Regions from separate parts of the Homo sapiens genome. Here region 2 is linked to region 1. A link means that fine-mapping ties the variant in region 1 to the expression of a gene that starts in the linked region. Tissue or cell type: cerebellum. Region 1 holds a variant in brackets; the other region holds the start of a gene. All regions are shown on one strand. Distances are from middle to middle.

Evidence for each region. PIP is the estimated chance that this variant, and not a neighbour inherited with it, causes the effect.
Region 2: CDON starts here. The variant in region 1 is fine-mapped to the expression of CDON in cerebellum (GTEx, PIP above 0.99). The same link has a PIP of 0.9 or more in cerebellar hemisphere.

What each region holds. Positions count from the first base shown.
Region 1 is chr11:125,970,141-125,978,244 of GRCh38, forward strand. All of the region lies in intron 18 of CDON (cell adhesion associated, oncogene regulated), which reads right to left. Among named protein-coding and RNA genes, the nearest start is that of VSIG10L2, 28 kb to the left of the region's middle. The variant G/A (reference allele first, on the strand shown) is at 3,316.
Region 2 is chr11:126,059,005-126,067,106 of GRCh38, forward strand. It overlaps CDON (cell adhesion associated, oncogene regulated), which reads right to left and starts at 3,862. Exons shown (of 20, transcript NM_001378964.1): 1 at 3,575-3,862. RefSeq lists an enhancer at 1-1,419 and silencers at 3,620-4,289, 4,360-4,449.

The sequences.
Region 1 (8,104 bases):
CGGAAATAGTTACATCTTGGTGGTAGTTTATGTTTTTTTTTTTTTTTTTTTTTGAGACAGAGTCTTGCTCTGTCGCCAGGCTGGAGTGCAGTGGCGCGATCTCGACTCACCGCAACCTCTGCCTCCCGGATTCAAGCAATTCTCCTGCCTCAGGCTCCAGAGTAGCTGAGATTACAGGCGCGCGCCACCACGCCTGGCTGATTTTTGTTTTTTTAGTAGAGATGGGGTTTCACCATGTTGGTCAGGCTGGTCTCGAACTTCTGACCTCGTGATCTGCCTGCTTCAGTCTCCCAAAGTGCTGGGATTACAGACGTGAGCCACCGCACCCGGCCAGTAGTTTATGTTAAAATTCCACTCACCTCTGCTGTTTCCACTAGTCACTGTGTCATTTTGCTGACCCAGCTCTTATTTTCGGGAGCTTATCAGTTACTACCTAAAGAACCCTGATGGCACCGCTCCAGGGCCATGGCCGTCTTCCCTTCTCGATATCTGCTCTGTTGGATGCTGCGATGACCGCAGCATTAGAGTGGGAGTTTCCTTTTGGGAATTAATCTATCAGCAGCTGTCACATAAAACATGACAGTAAATGTTGAGTGACAACAAATGACTGAGTGTATTCCTGAACATGGCAAGTTGACAGACACACACGAGCTTATAAAGAAAGACAAAAAGCTGGACTCCCTGACAACAGGCGCTAGGTCTCCATCTTAGAAGTACGAGACAGACTTGGGGAGATATATAACTTCCCCAAAAGGAAAGCACTGATCAATTTTTAAAATTCAACACAGCACTCTGAATTTCTTAGGGAAATAGGGAGATTACCATAGATGGAAGAGAAGCTGAATGCCTGTTTTCTGCTGGAAGAAAAAGCTCAGGTGAACTGGACAACTTGTTGTTTTAATACTTAGCAAACCAACTGGGTAGATCAAACCTTAGGCCTGAAAGAACTGCTATGATAATTAACGTTCTCCGGTGGCTCACGCCTGTAATCCCAGTACTTTGGGGGGCCAAGGCGGGCGGATCACGAGGTCAGGAGACCAAGACCATCCTGGCTAACACAGTGAAACCCCATCTCTACTAAAAACATAAAAAATTAGCTGGGTGTGGTGGCGGGCACTTGTAGTCCCAGCAACTCAGGAGGCTGAGGCAGGAGAATGGCGTGAACCTGGGAGGTGGAGCTTGCAGTGAGCCGAGATCGCACCACTGCACTCCAGCCTGGGCGACACAGCGAGACTCTGTCTCTAAATAAATAAATAAATAAATAAATAAATAATAATAATTAATGTTCTCATATTCATCTCTACATGTTGTTGTCATCGGAGGACATCTGACATCCACGGAGGGTTTCAAGTTGGTGAAAGAGCATTCCCAAATCCAACACACAGACTTTTAAGGTTGTCATTATACAAAACTCTGAAGTCATTTGTAGTATCTCTGTTCTCTAAAGCACCGTTCCCAGTAGTTTTACTACTTCTCTTGACTATCAGCCATGTAATTTGTACTTTTTTTCCCAGATGAATTATATAATTTTTCCAAGCTGATTTTCGCTGGGAGACTTCCTGTCCATCTCCAGTCTCTCTACGACCCTTCGAGTTAATTTCTCATTCCTTCCTGATGGGGTCTCTCGGTCCGTTCATCTGTGAATTTCATCAGTGTCCTCTCTACTCTCTCTTACAAATTATCAAGGCTGATGCTAAAAAAGACCAGATTTAATGCCAATCCCTTTCCATTAAACTAGCCAAGCAACTGATAAGCCACATTTAATTACATATCCAGAACTGCATTACTGCCTTTTGAATTCAGGAGAAGAGAAGAGAAGGGTAGAAAGCTTTCGATGTTTTTTGATTAAAATCCATTTAACTCTTGAAATGCCCAAATGGCACAAGGATTTCTTGATTAGGTCTCTGGTGTAAGGAACTGGCTCTCTGCAAAGCTGCCTTAAATATGCTTCTTTCTAGGCATTCATAGTGAGCTTTACATATTACTCTTAAAAACTGCAAAGGGGTCAGGCGCGGTAGCTCGCGCCTGTAATCTCAGAACATTGGGAGGCCGAGGCGGGCAGATCACATGAGGCCAGGAGTGCGAGACCAGCCTAGCCAACATGGCAAAACTCCGTCTCTACTAAAAATACAAAAAAATTAGCCAGCCATGGTGCCACACGCCTGTAATTCCAGCTACTAAGGAGGCTGAGGCATGAGAATCGCTTGAACCCAGGAAGCGGCGTTGCAGTGAGCCAAGACTACACCACTGCACTCCAGCCTGGGTACTGGAGTGAGACTCTGTCTCAAAAAAAACAAAAGAAAATCAAAAGAAACTAAAAAGGATTCAAGGTCATGGAACCCAGTGAGGCAAGCGGTCATTTACAGCATGTCACAAGAGCCCCAGAATCAACTACAACTTCCCCACAGATCTATACAGTGCACCCTCCCCTCACCTGCTCTCAACTTTTCACATCATACTCTCATTTACATAATAGAGGCAACGTTTTCCCTCCAGATGGTTATTACTAAAATAGATGGGTGATAAAAGGGGTCAAGGGTTGGCAATGTTTCTTAAAAGCTCACTCCAAGAAATATGCTTAAGTTTACAACTGAGAAGGCAGAGAAAAAAGAACCTGGAGTGGCAGGGCACAGAGCAGGTAAGAGTCCGTACGGAAAAGGCCCCATGCAAGACTTCTCCAGTTCTCAGTATCTGTGGAATAAAGAAGGCGAATTGCAGAGGCACCACCAGATCTCAGAGGACAACTCTCCAGAAGTATACTGTGGGGCAGCTCCTCTTCATCTCCTGCAGTGTTCTCTGCCTCAGTGACTGCGCCCAGACACCTAGACATCATCTTCAACTGCTTCCTCCACTGGCCTCTTCAACCAATTACTTGGTCTTTTTTTTTTTTTTTTTTTTTTTTAAATCCCTCAGACTCATTCAGACTCATCTCCTTCTAAATCCTAATTCTCTCAAAATTCTTCTCTTTCTCTCCCTACAACTATGCTAGTCTACTGTTTCTCATCTGGACTACTGCAACTGCCATCTAACTGGTCTCCAGGTATCCTCTCCTGCCCCATCCAATTTAGTCTCCAAACTGCATCCAGAGTGTTCTTTAAAAACCCAAATTCAGCTGGGCATGGTGGCTCATGCCTGTAATCCCAGCACTTTGGGAGGCCAAGACGGGTGGATCATGAGGTTAGGAGTTCAAGATCAGCCTGACTGACATGGTGAAACCCCGTCTCTACTAAAAATGCAAAAAATTAGCCGGGCGTGGTGGCGGGCACCTGTAATCCCAGCTACTTGGGAGGCTGAGGCAGAGAATTGCTTGAACCC[G/A]GGAGGTGGAGGTTGCAGTGAGCCAAGATCGTGCCACTGCACTCCAGCCTGGGCAACAGAGTGAGACTCCATCTCAGAAAACAAAAACAAAAACAAAAACGAATTCCTGCTTAAAACCATCCACAGATGTGCCATGGCTCTGTGTGATCTGATTTCACTCGCCTTTTAATTCTGACTCCTCCAGTTACTAGGTTTCTGCTATGTTGGCCTTCTTTAAGTTCTTTGAGGATTCAGGCATTCTGTTTTAGAGATTGTGTATAAATGGTCCCCTTTGCCTGGAAAGCTCTAAACTTATTTCCTTCCCTTAGACCTAATTTTATAAATCTTCAGAGCTCAGCAAAATGCCACTTGCTTACAGAGGGCTTTCCTCTCTCCCACATTCTTTACTTTTCCTTTAAAGCATCCAGATTTAATTACATATTCATTTTTATTATTTATGTCATTTTTTTTTTCTTTTGAGACAGAGTTTCGCTCTTGTTGCCCAGCCTGGAGTGCAGTGGCGTGATCTTGGCTCATTGCAACCTCTGCCTCCCGGGTTCAAGTGATTCTTCTGCTTCATCCTCCGGTGTAGCTGGGATTACAGACACTTGCCACCATGCCCAGCTAATTTTTGTATTTTTAGTAGAGATGGGGTTTCACCACATTGGCCAGGTTGGTCTCAAACTCCTGACCTCAGGTGATCCGCCCGCCATAGCCTCCCAAAGTGCTGGGATTACAGGCGTGAGCCACTGCACCCCGCCGATTTATGTCATTTTCTTAAAAGATATGTCTCCCCTATTAAACTCTAAGCTCCACGCAGGCAGGAGCAATGCCTGTTATGCTCACTGCCATATCCCCAGTACCTAGTTTGGTGCTTGGCTCACTAGAGACCTGCAGCAAACATTTGTAGGTAGGTAGGTAGGTAGGTAGGTAGGAAGGAAGGAAGGAAGGAAGGAAGGGAGGGAGGGAGGGAGGGAGGGAGGGAGGGAGGGAGGGAATTCTTTTTTTCTTTTTTACTCTCCTTATTTTATCATTCTCCTTTTCCCATCTCTGTTATTCTCTGAAGATGTATTAAGGCAGTAAGAAAAAATAACAAAAGATATGATGTCTTATAAAAAGAATGTCTAATCACTTTAAATACATAATAAAAGCAAATAAATGCATCAAATAATTAAATATATAAAAATAATCAATCTGCCAAGGATATTGTCTCCTTTGGTGTCTCATCTGTTTTTAAGTTCTATTACTTGGATAGAACTTAAAATGGTCCTAAATCTGTATCACAGTTCCATTCTACCCCCTGAAGCCAAGACCAGCATTTTCATCTTTCTCCTTAAGATATCAACTCATACTTCAACTCTAAAACCAAATTTATCACCTTTTTATGATGTATCATTTTATTAAGTTTCTTATTACTATGACTACCACCCAGATCATCCATGTTTGAAACTTCTTACACATCTGGAATCTTCTGTTTTTCTAGATCCCTGTCAGTCAATGGCCAAGTCCTGAAGACTCCATGTCTGCAGTCTCACTCATCCCTTCCTCTTCATCCCCATTCCCCATGTCTCACTGATCCCCTCCCTCCCTTCCCTCCTGTGCACTGCCATCTTTCATCCAGCCTGAGCATATCTCTGAACAGATCATTCCTGTTCTCAATAAGCTTTGCAACAATTATGATGCTGCTACCCCAGTGTTTCTCAACATTTAACGCATATCCCCTTTTGATTAATATAAAAATTGCATACCCTTGTATACATAGACATTACAGACATAGAGATTTTTTTCTATTCTTTAAATATAAAATTATAAAACTCAACGTGCTTCTTCAAACTCTACTCACTATATCCCTACCTCTGTCTGAGAATCACTATTGTTAGACTATGGACTCTCTGAAGGCAGGGCCTAGGCCAGTACCCAGTACATGACAGGCACTCAATAAAAGGCCTTGTTTATTAAATAAACTTGCTTATTTAATAAATAATATTTAATAGGACTATTATTAAGTAATAGGACTTGTTTATTAAATAAACTACTAAACCTTCACATTCAGGGTTATCCACTATATAAACTCAGTCCAGTTGTCCAATTTCAATATCCTACTATTCTCTAGTTGCACTTCACAGCCGATCAAATTATTCCAGCGGTTCTCAAAGCATGGTCCCAGGACCATGGGCATCAGTACCATCTGCGAACTCATTAGAAATGCAAATTCTCAGGCCCCACCCTAGACCTGCTGAATGGGAAACTCTGGTCTAAGAATAGGAGTGGGAGTAGAGCCTAGTAATGTGCGTTTTTATTAAGTGTTTCAAGTGATGCACGCTAAAGTTTGAGAACCACTGAAGTCGCCTATTCATTCTTATGTAAACATTATCCTTTCTACGTCCATGACTGTTCTTACATTCCTTCTACGGGGAAACACCTCAGAACCTAGTCCAGAGCCTGGGTAGTGCTCAGTAAATGTTTGTTTTGTTTTGTTTGACTGAACAGCCAAAAATCATATGAGGCCCACTTGATAGCCCTCATATAACTTAACTGAAATCACGCTTCTTTTTATGTTTACACTATTTCAGCTGATATTCAGAAATGCAAACTCATTCATAGTAACAATGTCGATATTCTAAAAGCATAAATTGACTATAATTTTCTATATTTTGAGAGTAAACCACGTATCATCTACCTTTCGGCATTCACAGCTTTTTACAAATTTTGTCATTTGTAAGATCTTAAGAGGAGATACCTGTTCTCAATTCCAAAGTGAAAAGACTTAAAATCTTTAAATTTAATAATTCAAATTTTCTAGAGCTGAAGGTAGGTACTTATTGATACTTATCTGTCCAATTATTGAGTGTCAAAATCATACAGTTGCTCCTGGGAGCCAGGTGAGACACTGGCTAACCTTGAAGGCAATGCAGGCAAGTAAAGACTTGCACTAAACAGGCAGATTCTCATGAGGAAGAAAATTGAAACCAGGAAGAAAAAGAATCTGGTGTTCCAAGCTGAAGAGAATTCACCTAAATTCCCAGATAACAGTAAAACCCACACACATGAAATGTAGTAAGTCATTAACTTGAAAATTAATAGAAATACAATTGTTCATTGTCTTAAAGGAAAAAAAAACTGTATAATAAAAACTTGAAAATACTAAAATACTACATACACACACATGCACACACACACACAAACACACACACACACACACACTACACATACAAATAGCCACAAAGCCAAGGTCATTTAAATGGCAGAGGTCATATAAGTCCTTCTAAGGAAATGGGATGCATTCTTGATATTAAGATGATACTTCATCAAAAAGACATGATTGGCAGGAAATTGCCAGAGACTACCGTCAGATTATGTTGGGAGCAATCTTACATTACCTAGGACAATTTTCCCCTTTTTAGTTAAGGAAATAGCTTCAGAAACATTACGTTACTTTCGCAAGATCACAGGTTTAAGCTATGTCACAGCCCAGGTCTACTTATTCTTAGACCAGAGATCCTGTCGTTATACCATTCTATTGTCCAGGAGAACCAAGATCTGCTGATGACCAAGAACCACAAAAGAAAACACGTTAAAATTTTAAGCAAGACCACTTGTAACTAAATCCGTCTGATTACTCGCCAGGTACATGAACCACCTTTACCAGGTCTTTAGCACGTTGCCTAACAAACTACGGTAAAGTCCATGAAAAGCTCAAGACAAAAATGTGGTTTCAATGTTATGAACATTTGCAAAACCAGGGTCATATAGAATTTAAATACGTAACAAGCAAACCTTAGTACATAAAAGAAGCAGATGGCTCTTTTATAGACACCCTGAAATGGGTTAAGTAAATGATAACAAACAATCTCCAAGAAGCTCTGTTGCTTTTGTTCTGCAACTCTCAAAACACAGGCTGGAACAACGTATTTTTAATTTGATGGTTGGCCTGATCCTTCTTCAAGTTCTGGTTTCAATAACTCCCAGAGACAACTCTTAACCTGTTAATCCATTTTAAATATATAGGTCAAACATCATTTCAATAATAAAATATCTAAACTCCCACCCATACTCCAGTTATTTTATGTACTAACTATGACATAATCTTTTTGGTTGTAGAGTTTTAGGACTGAGAAGGAAGGACTTTTGACACCATGTAATTCAATAACATCATTATGTAAAAGAAAGAACTAAGATTTCTGAAACAACTTTAATACAACAAAAAGCTTGGTAATCCTTGGGATTACCATAGAGAGAGGTCGTAGGAAAGTGTGCCGAGTATCCTATGTGTTAAATGCACATTGCTCTCCATATTTCTATCTTGTTTGAAATATTGTGAGTACATACCACTTTTAAAATTAAAACACAAAATTCAAAGCAAGGGTTTGCTGCTTAATTTTCTTAAGATTTTAAGAATTAAAAAAAAACACTGGATAATCTGGTAGGAAAATTTCAGTAACATTACTGTGAAAAAAATTACTATATACAGAGGGTTCCCCCCTCCCCCCAACACTCAGAAACACTGTCATTCATCCTCATAACATCCCATAACATAGAGTAGAAAATAAAAGGTGAGAAAAGATAAAGTCTTTATAACAGAGAATGACTCTAATTTAAAATTTTCAAAAACATTAAGCCTTATAATAATATTTCAGTGACAAATAGAGCCTTTAAGATGGTTTCTATATAGCTGAAGAAACCGAGGCACAAAAAGACAAAAATTGGAAAGCAGAGGCAAAAAATTAGTAACAGCTTTAAATTTAAGATTGCAAATCCTGAACTTTATATCCTAGGTAAAATTCCAAGAACTTTCTTTGCTGAAGGGAAA
Region 2 (8,102 bases), 89 kb after region 1:
TCTATAATAATAATAATGTAACAGAAACAATCAAATTCTATCAATAGTAAACTAAAATATGCCTATTAAAACAAGCATTTCATCACTGCAAAACCATTTGTTTCACATGAAGTCTGATTTTGCTCTCAGTTTGAAAGTTATTAAAACGATACATCAGCCTTTACAGGCAAGACCAAACAGTAAGATAATTTTACATATTTATCAAAAGATCATTCAAAGAAAACTTACCAAGTCTGCAACGTGTATATGCTTGTGCTTCGGAGGGAAAGCAGAGAAGCCACTTTCTGTACTTACACTGGAGTTCACTTCAGTGCTGAAAACACATCACTGTAGTCCTGCTTGTAATAAAGTCCGGACTAGCAATCTGCCTTTGGGTTGGGCTTTTCTCTTACAAGATAAGCTGTTAAGTCATGCCTTGATTTTAGATCTGCCAACATATGGAGTCTTCTAATGTAGCCTTCCCTCCACCCCCTCAACCCCCCCTGCCCGCATCCCCCCAATCCCCGCTCTGCTCCACTCCCTCTGCACACACACACATACACACATACAAAAAAGGCACTGCAGGGCAGAAATTCCTCAGGTGCTCGCTAATGGAATTCCCAGGGTCTTGGAGCCGCTTCGGGGATCAAGAGATCTCATAGCCCCCGCTGGGGTAAGGAGCAGCGAGTCTGTTCCATTTAATCAAATACAGAATGAATTTTCAGCTCTATTCACTAGCTTGTCTCCAGGGCTCTCAAAAGGCACCAGGCAGCTAGAATCACACACATGTGGCTCTTTTAGGCAAGTATAATTAGCTTGATTTTAAAAAGCCACATTAATAATATCACCTCAGGACCATTATTCAGGAGACAGATGACAATGATACTGTATGTTTTAAGCCTGACAATGGGGGAAAGAGCACAAGCAATGAGGGAAAACTTGAAGGATTAAAAAAAAAAAAACCAAGAAACCAGTTTTTCATTTAATTGTAATCCAATATTTTTCAAGTGACATTAAGAATATTCCATACACCATCCCTTCTTTTTAACAAAAAAGAATCAAGTAAAGCCCTCCCCTGTGCTGTTGAAAGTGAGTTAGTGCCAAATACACAACAAAAACTTATCACATGGAATGATTACATACAATATAAAAATTTAAGTAAAAATAAAACATTCTCAAATTCAAGTTCACGAAATTTCTTGAAAAAATTCCCCATTAAAAAATACTGTAAAAAAGCAAGTCCTTCAACTCAAAATATTTGGCAACCATACTCCAAATTCTGTTTCTAATCTAATTAGTTTGTATTAAGTTCATTTACTTAAAGGGGGGCTACCATGTACGCAGCTCATCTACAGCTCCACTGTATTGTCTTACCCATACTTCTACATCATGCCATAGCTGATCACAAGGCGCTGGCTCATATCATTACACGTTAAAGCAACACATTTTTCAACTCATTATTTATTTTCTAACGCTTCCCTGATTTTTACTACGATAATATTTAATTCCTGAAATCATTTCCCTAGTATTTAACTTCGAAACAATCACCAATTTTTAGTCTAAACGTTCGTGGAAAAAAAAAAATTCTACAGAAGGAAAATTTTACTTCAACTTACATTTCGACAAAACCATACATGAAATTGTCTACAAAGTCATGAAGGCAGATGGGCGAAGTGGGAAAATAAGAAGCAAGCCCAAGAAATAGTCAACAAATTTTTACCTGCTCTCTTTAGAACAAAGCCCTAGGACATTAGTTCCTATTCCTACCTACTGCCTTCAGCTGTATATACCCTGACGATCTGGAGGAGAAAGTCCTATCTTAAAGTGAACTTAATTCTTTTCCTGCAAAGTCAAACCACCTGCAAAGAAAGCAAGGCGTAAGCTAGATTTAGAAGCCAAGCTACACAAGCTAGATCAGTATCCAAGTCCTAAGGGTTCTTTGTACTTGAAGGCTTGAGAGTCAGAGCTGTTTAAGTACTTTGCACAGAAGAGGAGGCTGATGAGAACCATGGCAATCAATCAAAGCATCCCAAGTGAGTTATTACACAAACAACAGCACAGTACCTCTAGTAACTGATTCTCCTGGCTGACTAAACTATTCAAACAAAGACAGATTTCCCAAACACTGGGAAGTTTTTGCATGAAAGTTAAACAGTATACATTTGTGTGTTTCTTAATAGAAATATAAATGTTTCTGTTCTACACACTGCCAAACACACACCCAGGGCACGTCTTTACAAAATGAAACAGGTTTTCTCCATCCTTCTCATATAACTTCAAGTATGAGGCAGTTCATTCCAACATGTGCATAACAGAGACTGCAGTATTTGGTGCTTCTCGGGTTCCAAAGAATGCTTTCTAGTTAAGCACTAATTTAAAATTTCCAGAAAATTTTTTGAAGGTTTTCTTTCATCTTATCTTAAAAGTTGAACTATCCCCAAATTTTCAGCTAAAAATAGACTGAGGGTGGGGGAGAACTACAAAATGTCATAGAATGTTTAGAATTATGCTGACAATAAACTCATTTCATTTTCTAACACCCTCCCCACCTTCCTCTCCTTGGAGACACTGTCCACTAGGTATGCCAAGTGTCAGTTGGGAATTTGAGGGTTATGTTATCAGCGCCGAAAGGAATCAGAATTCACTGACTTGGCGTCTTTCATCTTTACTGGCATAGGCCTGAAAATAAATCTCATGTGAGCTTTTAGTCCAACCTCCTGTTTTTCAAGGTGTCTGGTTTGGGACACAAAGGCTGACTTTCTGTTGATGAGGTTCTCTAAATTCTGGATTCCCACTGGAAAGCAGTCTGCCCTTAAAGCACCTGCCACCCTCTGTCGTCCTGATGAGGAAGGGCAGGCATTCTGGAAACAGCTCCTTTTGGAGAGCCTTCCACCTGATTTGGTGGGGTTAGGGAGAACAATGAAGGGAAGGGCAAGAGAGTCTATCTATCCCCCTCAGTGATTTATTGCTGAAATTCCTAGATGTGGAGAGAAAGCAACAAAGGTCTGGAAGCTGCCGACTGAAATAAATAGCGAGCTGTAATGTATTTAGCAAATGATAATGCAATCCACAGAAAGCTTTACAGAGGAGAAGGAAAAATACACTCCCTGGGGCTGGGAAGTCAGTGAGTCTTGTGAAGGCAGAGAAAGATACATTGTGCAGGAAATTTCTCTTGCTTCTCCCTACACATAAATCACTGTCTCTCGCGGGCGCTCTGCAGGGATGGAGATTGAGAGAGGCCAGGGACCCGGCTCCCTTGGGAAAACGCGCGGGCGCCCTAGCTCCCCGCTCTGCGGCATCTCACCTGCCCCCGAGGACCATCGTCAAGAAGAGGTTTCGTCGTGTCACTGACACCTCACCCCGCCTCCTCCCGCGAGGTGCCTCCGAGCCCCCGAGGACGCGGAACGCCGGGGCTCCCCGCCGGGCAAGCATCAGCATCCAGACCCCGCACGCAGCCCTGCACCCCCACGCCCTCCAGGGAACGCCGGCCCGCCCGTCCCCGGGACCTCCCGTCCCCTAAGCCAAGGCCCCCCAAGCCCAGTGCCCGCGCGCCACCCCTCCCTCCGACCCTGCGGCGGGACCCCCACCCCCGCACCTCTCCGCGGGGCTGGCTAAGCCTCCAGACCTCCTGCGCTGCAGCCGGCTCGGAAAGCCACCCCCAGGTCATCCCCCCGCGCGCGCGCGGCGGCGGCTACGGTGGCGGCGGCTGCGATCCGAACGGGCCCCTCCATGCACCGCGCAGGGCAGAGGAGGGAGCGGCGCCTCGCACGCCGGGGCTGGGGCGCTGGGCAGGGCGGGCGGGCGTGGGGTCCCGGGTCTCCTCGCACCTAGCCGCGCGAGCCGGGCTCCCGGGCTCAGGGGAGGGGAGCTGAGGGGCGGAGTCACCGGGGCGCGCCCCCGCGGCTGCGCTCCTCCCCGCCGGGGAGCGCGGGCACGTAACTCGGAGGGTGCTGGGCCGGCCCGGAGCACGCGAGCAGCGGGAGGAGGGACCGGGGAATGACTGACGGAGGCGGGCCGTAGAGGCCGCTGTGCCCCGCCGGCCCGCACCCGGCCGGAGTGTGCGCGCGCAGCCTGCCAGATCAGCGGCGGGGGCACGGGCCGTACCAAGTGACGGAGGGGGGCACGCTCTGGGCAGGACCCTCTCCTCGTCATTGACCTGCCTACTCTGCAAGAGAGATACCCCAGGGGAGCATAGAAGAGGCTTTTCTTGGGTGTAGGACAGGTAAGGGTGAGTTGCCTTACCAAGTCACGGAGATTCCCATCATGCCTGCACTCACGCTCCCCTCACCTTTCATTCCCTTGGAGAGACGGCTCTTCTGGCAGGTCTCCAAATGGTCGACTCTGTCCCCCGAGGCCCCGCCCTAGCCTCGTTCGGGCCCCGCCCTAGCCTCGTTCGGGCCCCGCCCTAGCCTCGTTCAGGCCCCGCCCCTCGCCCCGCCCCGCCCCTCGCCTCTACCTAAGTTCTCTGAGCCGCCAACGGGTGCATCCCTTCTCCCGGTTCTTGCCTGGTCTCTCTTAGGGTTCCAGCGGCCCACCGCTTATACCTCCTTCGCCTTTCCACCACTTTCCATGTTTAATTCCTTAGGCAGCTTCATCTGATTCCCCCACCACCACCCACCCGCCCTGCCTGCACATAAACGCAAGCAGGTAGCAAAACTCAGGGGCTAGGAGAGGCGTGGTGTGAGCCTTTGGCCCCAGAGTCTTTCCAACTCGTCCGTTGGACCTGCCCCAAGTTATCTGAACTCAATGAACTTCAGTTGTTCAAACAGAAAAAGGAAAAATAAATTTCTATTCAAAATGTTGCTGTGAAGCGTAAATACGATACTTTGTGAAAAGCACCTGCCACTCAGTGGGCATTCAAGGACTGTAACTTCTTTATAAATTGTTATTATTAGCAGTTAGCTCTTTTTTTTCCCCATCATCATTACTTACTATTAGCTTAACTACAAAAGGATCCCTAATAATAGTTAAGTTTATAAATACTCAGTACTGAACTTCAGGAGAAATATGCCAGTCCTCCCTTACCTTCTTACGTGAATTTTAAAAAGAAATGCTTTGAAAGTGTGGTATTGTTCAAGCAGGTTAGCTTTCTGCATTAGCTAGATTCAGGGTTTTTGTAAAGCCCCTGGAAAGAAAGTCAGTACAGGACGGAAAAAAAAAACACAATTTTTTTTCTTAAGACGGAGTCTCACTCTGTCGCCCAGGCTGGGGTGCTCTTGTTGCCCAGGCTGGAGTGCAATGGTGCGATCTTGGCTCACTGCAACCTCCGCCTCCCGAGTGCAAGCGATTCTCCTGCCTCAGCCTCCCAAGTAGCTGGGATTACAGCACGTGCCACCACACCCGGCTAATTTTTGTATTTTCAGTAGAAACGGGGTTTTGCCATGTTGGCCAGGTTGGTCTTGAACTCCTGACCTCAGATGATTCTCCCGCCTTGGCCTCCCAAAGTGCTGGGATTACAGGCGTGAGCCACCACACCCAGCCAGAAAAAAACTCTTAACTCTAGTTTGTCCTCCACTGTTCTATTGTTCACTTTTGGAGACCAAGAATCTATATGTTATTAACAAGCTATGGTAAACGATTTTTCATTCGGCAAGTAAGTCTTTCTATAGAGGATTTAACTGAAATGAGAGTTTTGTGTGGATGTTAATAGAAGTCTTGCAAATTTATTGTGGCTACAGAGAATTCCAGGTTCTTCTCCTGGGACATAATGCACTTTGTGCACCTCCAGATCTCACAGTGCCATTTGAATTCACTATGCCTACTGTTACTCATAGTCAGACTAAGAAAAAAATCACAATGTTTGTTGATATTAATTACTTCCTCTCCCCCTTTTTTTGTAAAGCAGAGAAATCATTTCAGGTGTAAAACAGTTTTTCATTAATGAATCATTCATCCATTTGTTCAACATTAAGAAACAATGTGCAGTCCCAAGCTTCAAAGAGCTCACAGTCTAACTGTGATACAGACACACACGTGGGTAAGTACAAGGAGACATCTTCAGTGCAATGAACAGGGAGCTGTGTGAACACAAGGTCAGTATAGTATTGAGTATAGTATTAAGAGGTGATAGTATTAAGAGGTGATAGTATTAAGAGGTGATAGTATTAAGAGGTGATAGTATTAAGAGGTGATAGTATTAAGAGGTGATAGTATTAAGAGGTGATAGTATTAAGAGGTGATAGTATTAAGAGGTGATAGTATTAAGAGGTGATAGTATTAAGAGGTGATAGTATTAAGAGGTGATAGTATTAAGAGGTGATAGTATTAAGAGGTGGAGACTTTAGAAGCTGACTAAGTCATGAGGACCACCCTCATGAGCAAGATTCATGACCTTATAAAAGGGCTTCAAGGAGCTAGCTAGCCCCTTCTGTCCCTTCTGCCGTGGGAGGACACAGAGAGGTCATCATCTGTAAGGAGTAGGCACTTACCAGACCCTGAATCTGCAGGCACCTTGATCTTGGATTTCCCAACCTCCATAACTATGAGAAATAAATTTCTGTTGCTTAAAGAGTACCCAATCTAAGGCATTTTGTTATAGCAGCAGAAACAGACTAAGACACTATGGGGCCTCCAACCACAGATGTCCACTATGTAGAGAACTCCAAGTGGAAATACGGATTTAAACGTCATCAGCATAAAGTAGTGTTTATACCATTAAAGTGGAAGCGATCTCTCAGGAATAATATGGAACCAGAAAGTTGTAGCCAAGGATGGATCTCTAAAACTCCAATAACTAAAGCCCCCAATTATCTTGATGAATTTGGAGCAAAGGCTGTTTACTGAACTCAAGGTATGGGACTTGAAAAGGATGCTTGAAGAAGGTGGTGAAGGTTTGGAATAGTCATTAGGAAAAATGAGAGTTGAAAAATGAAAGTAGAAAATCACTCAGAGAATTGATAAGTGATGCTGAGGGCCTGGCTGAGGTTGGAGACCATTAATGTATGGTGATGGAGCTTGCATGATTATGTGGTTTTCTCCATCAAAATTTAATCAGTCAGGTAGAAGGGGAAAAGCATAACACCAACCCAATTTTGAAGTTTTTCTGGAAGTTGTACAAGAAGGAAAATAACACACGGTATTGGTAAGAAAATTTTTAAAACAGCAATCATAGAATCCAGGCAGTGGAAAAGGTGTAAGAGGTTTGAGAAGAATAATAGACTGGAAAAATTACAAATTAAAGAAAAGGAGATATGTATGACATTAAAGAGCTGTTGTTACAGGATTGAGTAAGAAAGAACCAAGAAGTCTTTGGTAATAACCAGAGTTTACCATTTCAGAAGTAGAACAGTTCCAAGTAATGATTAGATCTAGTATGTTTACCGGTGCTGGTGGACGATGTGGATGATTTATGCCGTCAGGGGACATATTGAAGGAACTGAGAGGCTGATAAATGAAATACCATGAGCCAAGTACTCAAGTCCTCAGGGATGAGGTGGGAAGGTTGTTAGATACTAAGTGACATTTAATACATTCCAGGCCTGAAGTGGGTGCTTTTATAATACTCAATACATGTTAAAATTGGTTCTCCAAGGCCGGGCGCGGTGGCTCACACCTGTAATCCCAGCACTTTGAGAGGCCGAGGCGGGCAGATCATGAGGTCAGGAGATCAAGACCATCCTGGCTGACATGGTGAAACCCCGTCTGTACTAAAAATACAAACAATCAGCCAGGCGTGATGGTGGGTGCCTACAGTCCCAGCTACTCGGGAGGCTGAGGCAGGAGAATGGCATGAACCCAGGAGGCGGAGCTTGCAGTGAGCCGAGATCCCATCACTGCACTCCAGCCTGGGCGACAGAGCAAGACGCCATCTCAAAAACAAAAACAAAAATGGTTCTCCAAGAATAACATAATAGAGTAACTAGAGTCCATAAACTTGTATCACATTCTGACTGTACCTTATTTGATCTTGGTCAAATAACTTAAACTCTTGGAGTCTTGATTTCATCATTTGTAAAGTTGTAAATGACTTCATCATTTGTAAAGAGTAATAATACCTCATATAGAGTTGTTAATAGGACCTACTTCAGTGGTTTGCTAGGAGGATTAATTGAGATGATACACACAAAGCACTTAATACAGTGATTGGCAAGTAGCAAACACTGGATAAAAGTGTTTTTAACATA